Linked DNA regions of Homo sapiens. The protein of the gene in region 1 purifies or fractionates together with the protein of each later gene. This does not show direct contact. Each region holds a gene or a part of one and is shown on either strand. Other genes may lie near its edges.

What was found.
Region 2: the proteins of PEPD (region 1) and MSN fractionate together in Homo sapiens (co-fractionation; one large-scale study listed by BioGRID). This does not show direct contact.

Annotation. Positions count from the first base shown.
Region 1 is NC_000019.10:33,399,691-33,403,489, reverse strand, and holds part of PEPD (xaa-Pro dipeptidase), read left to right. Parts: intron 1-66; exon of another isoform or gene 67-1,620; coding exon 1,621-1,769; intron 1,770-3,799. UniProt on the Homo sapiens protein: Dipeptidase that catalyzes the hydrolysis of dipeptides with a prolyl (Xaa-Pro) or hydroxyprolyl residue in the C-terminal position.
Region 2 is NC_000023.11:65,726,377-65,730,175, reverse strand, and holds part of MSN (moesin), read right to left. Parts: intron 2,363-3,799; coding exon 2,267-2,362; intron 739-2,266; coding exon 464-738; intron 1-463. UniProt on the Homo sapiens protein: Ezrin-radixin-moesin (ERM) family protein that connects the actin cytoskeleton to the plasma membrane and thereby regulates the structure and function of specific domains of the cell cortex.

The sequences.
Region 1 (3,799 bases):
TGGGTGAGAGGCCCTCGTGACGGAAGCCGCGGCTGTGCCCCTGGCCTCAGACTTGTCAGGACTCACCCAGCTACAGATGGACCCCATGGGAAGCCCAGGGTGGAGCCAAAGAGGGGCAGCTGCACTTCCTCAGCCCTCCTGGCTCTGGTTCTGGACCCTGCAGACGTGGTGGGCTCTGGTCCTAGGGCTAGACCAGCCTCCGCCAGCCAGGGTCATCACCATCAGTGTCGTGACTTGGCCATGACCTGTGAAGGGGCTGGTGGACCCGAGGGTTCCGCTCTGTGTCTGCTGCCTGCAGCCTCCCGAGGTGCCTAGGTGGGATGGATGGAAAGGGGCACCACCTGCGCCCCTCCGCCCCCTCAGCCAGGCCCAGCCTTGTCCACCTGGGCTGCTTCCGGGGAGTCCTGAGAGCCAGGTTTGGATCCAGCAGCCCTTCCCGTATCCTGTCCCTTCCACACCACAGGATGAGCGGGAGGCTGCTTCTCTGCCGTTGCCCAGAGAGGGCCCTGAGGTCCTTTGCACAGCAAGGACAGGCCCTACTCCTTCCGGGCCCTGCTGTGCCAAGGGTCCCTCTTACAGGGCATCCAGAGGGCAGCCCCAGCCACCATCCTCCTGCCTCAGCAGGCCTCCTGTCATCTGTCCCACACTGTCTGTCCCACGCCATCTGTCCCATGCCATCCTGCCTCTCTGCTGGCCCCCAGGCCCCTCCCGTCCTGGACAGCTGGCACCTCTGCCCCATTCTCCACGCCCCTGCCTGTGTCCTGCTGGTCTCTGCCTGCCACCGGAGGGTGCCAGGGTGCAGGTGGACAGGGTGAGGGGGCCCACCTGGCTTCGGGGACATGTGGCCAGCAGGCCCTGGGAAAGCCTTGCTGGACATGAGGCTGTCTGGCACTTCCTCCCTGCCCTCCCCTTGGGCCCTGGCAGAATATGTCCGTCCCATCCCCATGGGCAGAGGGGTAGTGTCGGGCACACCCCTCCAGCTAGGGGGCCCCAGAGCTGCAGCAGAGCCAGAGGCCCTAGCCGCCGACTGAGTGTCTGCCCAGATGCTCTGGGTCCTGGAAGAAGCAGGTGGTGTGATTCAGGCCCGGAGTTCTAGGCCGTGCATCCCATCCGGGGTCCCTGCCCAGCCCCCTCCTCCTCTGCTTCCCACAAGCACGGCCTCAGCCTGTGCTCTGTGCTGGGTGCAGGGAGACCTGGGAGAGCCTGTTGGGGTGCCGGGTGGAGGCCAGGCAGCGGGCGGGGTCCTGGGGCATCTCTGCCTCTCCTTAGTTCTCCAAACAATTCTCCATGGCTCTGAGCTCTTGGAGGCCAGGCCACAGGGGTGGGTGTCATCTGCATAGGACAGCCCCACTCCCCTCAGCCTTCCCTGCCTGGGCTGAGCCCTGAGTCCCTTTTTCCCTGGAAGACACAGGTCTTCCAGGATGGCTTCGGGTTTCCTTGCTGCCCACGCACCCGTGGGAGACACCAGGTGGCAGTTCCCCACACCGGTCTCATTGTGAGGGGGAGTTGCATCCAGGACCCGGGCCAGCTGCCCTCGAGTCCAGGGCAGGTGGGGAGCGGTAAGGGTAAGGGGGCGGTGGCACCCCAGTACCCACTTGCCCTGCCTTCCTCTCTCCGCAGCCTGTTCGACATGGGCGGTGAGTATTACTGCTTCGCTTCCGACATCACCTGCTCCTTTCCCGCCAACGGCAAGTTCACTGCAGACCAGAAGGCCGTCTATGAGGCAGTGCTGCGGAGCTCCCGTGCCGTCATGGGTGCCATGAAGCCAGGTGAGCAGCGGGTCGGTGGGGGGAGGCGCATCTGACGTGGCGTTGGGGGCGCTGCTATGTGGCAGGTGCCTGCAGGGAACGGGTCTGCATTGTGTGACTTGAATCTGCCACACTCCAGATGCTTAGTCCCTGAGATTCCAGTGGCGTCAGGTCTCCAGGGTCACTCCTAGGAAACAAGGCTGACCACCAGGCAGGGACAGACAGAACCAGGAATTGCGGGGCTCAGGCCAAGGCTCCCCGGTCTGCTGGCCTCCACCTGCGCATCTCCACTGGCCACTAGCACGCCAGCCTGTCTCCTGCTTTGTCCTTAAGCGGTGTCTACTCCAGGGAGGGCTCAACCCACTCTGGACACTGGCATGGGGTCAGAGCAGGTTCACGTGCCGCTCAGCGCTCTGTGACCTTGGATGGAAAGCCCTCCTCTGGGTGGCCGTTTCCACATCTGTAAATGGGGAAGCAGCCGACTCATGGAGACTGAGTTAAGCTGTGTAAAGCACCTGCAAGGCCGCCTGGCCTGTGGTAGTGCCCTGCAGGGGTCACAGTCACCACCATGATGGCCATGTTGAGGCCAGGATGGGCCTGGTGTTTCTCTCTCCCAGCGGCCAGCGTAGGCCAACCTGTCCTGCCCTCAGCCCTCCCAACCCCAGGCAGCCTGCACAGGCCCCACTGGTACCTCTTGACCTCCCACCGCGCGCCGTTGATGTCTGTCAGGGCAGGCAGAGGAGGTCCCCTGGAGGGGAGCCAGCATCCTCCCAACAAGGCCAGCTTTCAGGAGTTCCCCCTGGGCACCTCCCGCTGTCCCCATCCCGCTCAGCCAGCCTCCTGCCGAGTGACCCCTGGGTCCTCCATAGCCCTGGCAGGGGTGGAGTCTAGCACCCACAGGATCGAACCCCAGCTCTCTGCCCTGCAACAATAGAAACCATTTCCCAGCAGTGATGGGAGGTCCTGGCTTGTCACCTTTGCCCAGAGGAGAGAATTGAGGGATGTGGTCTTCTCATGTTCTTGCTTCAAGCCTTCCAGGGCTTCAACACAGCACCCCTGCCGTAATCCTTGGATTCACCAGAGCCTGGGCAGGTTCCTATGGGATCACCATGTGCTGGCCAACCCCTAGGCCTGGCCCTCTACAGGCACATGGCTCCCACGACTCTGACTGAGATCTGTTCGGCAGCTGCCAGGGTCCAGCCTGCAGCGCAGAGGGGCTTTCCCTGCCCACACCGGCCCAGGCACAGCTGGCCCCCCAAGGCACGCAGGTTCTGCATCTTTGGTTATAAGCAACAGAACAGTCTCCAGCCAATTCGGTCATTTGGGGCTGCCACAAATTCACAGAGGTGGAAAATCAGGTCTGGGCTGGGGCCAGGGCTGCAGTGGCACAGGACAATGGCCCTGTACTCACAGCTGGATCGTCTGGCCAGGGCCCGCCCTCAGCACACAGGCCCCAGCCACCTTCTGCAGCCTGGAGTCCCTCCATCTGGGTCGAGGTCAGAGATCACCTCGTGTTGGCCATGCCCAGGTCATAGTCCAGCCCCCCCAGCTTGCCCCCACCCTCGCCCACTGCCTCTCACCCACAGCTATACAGACCTCCAGAGAGACAGGCAGGCCCAAGGCAGCCCCCTGTGTAGGGGAGCTCAGGCGTCCTCCAGGAGCCAGGTGGGCTTACCGCGGGCAGAGGGGATAGCCCAGTAGCGCAAGGCTTCAGAGTCCAGGATGCAGGCCCCAGACCCAGAGTGCCCCGAGCCCAGCCCCAGCTCTGCCGCCTGCTGGCCAGGTACCTTACTTAAGCCCCAAACAGGCGAAGGATAGACCCCTGCTCTCCCAAGGCAGAGTCCACTTCAGAGCGGGCCTGGCCAGCTCTGGACCGTGGCATCTAGTTAGACATGGAGTGCCCTCTGTTAAGGACCCACAGAGAGCTGGCAGCTGCCAAGTGCGCCCTCAGTGTTCAAGGAAAAAAGAAGAAAGAAAGATCTGGAGCCTCCAGAATGCGGCCTCAGAACTTGATGGCTCGGCGGTCGACTGAGCAGTCCCTGCGGCCCCAC
Region 2 (3,799 bases), on another chromosome or scaffold:
TGACTTTGAAGTTTACAAAAGGGGAAAGCTCTGTACACTAGCTGTCAATATTAAAAGACTATTTGAGCTCCCCATGTCCTCGGTTTGCTTATTTCTCTCTCTCCCCTGTGAACTTCTGATATAAGAGATCTAAATCAGTAAAAAGAACTGAGAAAATGGAACCAGGGATGGGTGAAAGAAATTACTCAATCTCTGGTTCTATATAAGCACCTGCCTCCAGGGTAATAAAGTTCTGTAACCAGGTAGACAGAGGGAAAACAAAAAGGCTTTTTATTTGGAAAGCCAGAAAAACAACAACAGAGTCTGACACTATATGCAAATGTCTCTTGAGCAGCATAACACAGTCTTCAGACAGACCCCAATGGAGAAGAACAGATCTGGCATCCCTGTGAGGCAGGGATTGGTCAGCTGTGGGCTGCAGCCCCTTATGGCCAAGGCAAAGGAGGGCAGGGAACCACCTCACCTCTGCGGGAGCAACTTGTCTCCGGCCAGGTAGCCAGACTTATGCACTTCCTTATTGAAGTCGCCATACTTAGACTGGACAGCATACGAGGCCAGCAGCACAGCGGTCTCAGGCGGGCAGTAAATATCATCATTGAGAATGCCCTCTTTCACTTGCAGAAAGAACAGGCGCTGAGTGATGTCCTGAATCAATTCCTCGGACACATCCTCAGGGTAGAACTTGGCACGGAACTTAAAGAGCAGGGGGCTTTCCTTCCGCACATCCTGGGCAGTCACCTGGGAAGAGTAAGGGTTATGGACTCTCAAAAAATAGGTTTTAAGGGTAATGGAGTGGCTGTAGGGTGGGGAGAAAACACTGAAAGATCATCAATTTGCATAATCTTAGACAGCTGGGTGGCAACTCCCCTGGTAATTAAGAAAAATAATACATTACTTTCACTGGGGACTGAATCCCATGTCTGTAATCACTTTCTGTTGGGAATTTCTTCCTGAAATTACCTTAATACCGACTGATGATCAGAAATCTTCAAACCACTTTTATCTGACTATATCCAACTATCCCCAAATTCTGATAGTAGGCATAAGCTCTTCTTTTAAGCTCGTCTTATAAGTCTCCTCCAACTTCATAAATTAGCAAAGTAAGGACTAGGATATATGTCTGAGGACTGAGAACTGGCTAAACAAGAGCACAAATTAGACCATTTTTTAAAGCCTGAAATGGAATACTAGTGGCTCCACACTTGTCCAGCAAAAGACTCAACTCTTTAGGAAAACAAGACTCTACCAGCAGAAGGTGGGGTACCTACTCCCTAGACACAATCAGAGAAGCAAACTGCAGGACAGTATGGAGACTTCTAAGGACAAGGCCAGCCAGTTTGAGGATACGAAGATGGAAGGCTGCCAGGTTCCCGTGAAGATGCTGCTTGGGGTGGAGAGCTTGCATGGACTCAAACCATCCCATTTGGGGTCCAACTGAGGTAAAAGATCAAGAAAGAGGGAAACATCTATATGGGGTTCAGACATTAGTTGACTGCTGGAGAAGGTGCAGCATAAGACTGTAAGATCTTTCAGATTTTTTTTTTTCTAGTTCAAGAATCTGTGGCTCTTTTTAACAAATCCCCAGCCAAGCTCAGTAGCTCATGCCTGTAATCCCAGCACTTTGGGAGGCCGAGGCGGGCGGATCACAAGGTCAGGAGATCGAGACCATCCTGGCTAAAACGGTGAAACCCCGTCTCTACTAAAAATACAAAAAATTAGCCGGGCGTGGTGGCAGGCACCTGTAATCCCAGCTACTCGAGAGGCTGAAGCAGGAGAATGGCGTGAACCCAGGAGGCGGAGCTTGCAGTGAGCCGAGATGGCACCACTGCACTCCAGCCTGGGCGAGAGTGCGAGACTCCGTCAAAAACAAAACAAAACAAAAACAAACAAACAAAAAAAACACAAATCCCCTAAAGCCATTGAGTTTGGAGAGATGAAGGGGATACCAATCCTCTCTTGAAAAGCCACTAATGGATTTGATCCAAAACAAGTCAAAGTTCAAGCTAGTGTTCCCATTAGAAAGAAAAGAGTCTCTTCTTCTTTGAATGCTGGCCATTGTCGCTGTTAGAAGTCAAAGTAGAGACAGAGCAAGAGCTTTGCCTTGCTTGTGTCCTCGGTCCTTATTCTGATCCAAGTGGTCAACAGACCACCCAGTCACAAACACAGCCCTAGGTATCCAGGATTTGCCAACTAGCACATGGTACCCTCCCAGGAATGTTCTGGAAAAGAAAAGAATTCTAAATCCAACAGAGGAATAAGCAGTTACCTTCTTATTGAGTTTCAGCCAGGTGGAGAAACCTTTAGTGTCCTGGTACTGCAGACCAAAGAACCAAACTTCCCTCAAGCCAATAGTTTTCACCACCTAGAAGAGAAAACCAAAACAACCAACCATTGATTGAATACTTCCTCTGTGTGAGGCACAGAGGACACAAAGTTTGAAGTCAATATTATATCTGCCCTTAAAGGGTTTAAGGTGCTCAGCATCTGGCAAGAAAATATACTTGAGCAGCAATCAAGAACTGATGTCGGCATCTCTCTGCACAAAGTACTGCTGAGGCAGGAAAGGGATCTATTACTTATGAGCACTGACACATACCAAGAACCTTACATCCATCATCTCCTTTAATTTTCATAATACCCCTATGCTAGACTTACAATTAGGCCCATTTTATAGATATCAAAAATGAGGTTCAAATAAATGAAATAACTTGCCCAAGTTTCAGGTTGTGAGTGACAGAATTAGGGTTCAAACCAGGTCTGTTTGACTCCAAATCCATGCATATCCAGTGATTTCTGCCACCTCCTCCTTCCCTCTACAATGTCACACCACTTCCCACTTCCATGATGGATTAAAGGCTGAAGGTGGAGATTGTTGGATTAACTCCTGTATCTTGTTCTCTTGGGCCACTCCCATATATTGTCCTTCATCCTTAGCAACTGGGGGTAATACCCACACCCTTAAGACTGAGTTCCATTTACAATACCCCAAATAAAGAATGTTTGAGAAGATAAAACGGGGATTGTGAAGGACTCTGAAGCCATGCTGTGCCTGGGTTCTGAGAGGATTTTTTCCAACCCTGATCAGAGCCAAGTCATGATTCCTCTTACACAGGTTTAGGGTGGAAATGAGGGTAGAAATAGGGTAAGTACCTCAGTGTAGCAGCTGAGGTGCCCCCTGTTGTCCTGAGCCTCCTGGCTGAACAGTGGGCAGGAAAAGGAGGCTTGCCAAGAGAACACAGATGAGCTCTGTTCTCTAGTCCCTGACATTAGCATGTTAATAGTCTGGCCCTCAGCTCAACCCCAGCATACCCACCACTGTCGATGGCAGCAGTGAAGCTGAGCCACATCCTAATGAGGTCAGGCTGGCCTTAGGCAGTCTTTTTTATTTTGTTTTTTGGGAGAAGGATGCAAGTGGAGGGTAAGGGTAAGGTGAGAAAGAATCATAGAAATATACCTGGAGATGGAAGCAGGGAACAAGGACCCAGTTTTGCTGATGTCCTTCCCTTATGAACAAATTAATATCTCCCTTCAAAATACACACACACACATGCACACACACACTCACTCACAAAGACACACATACACACACTAACACTGTATCCACAAAGTTTCTATTATGCATCCAAAGTCAGGCCCCACAGTCACACCCAGAGTTTACAATCTAGAGCTTCAGAGACCCCAAAGAAAAAAGTAGCTCATATTTATTAAGCACCAATCATGTGTCAGGCGCTGAACAGTAAACAACCCTGTGAGATAGCAATTATACCCATATTATAGATGAGGAACTAAGGCTTAGAGA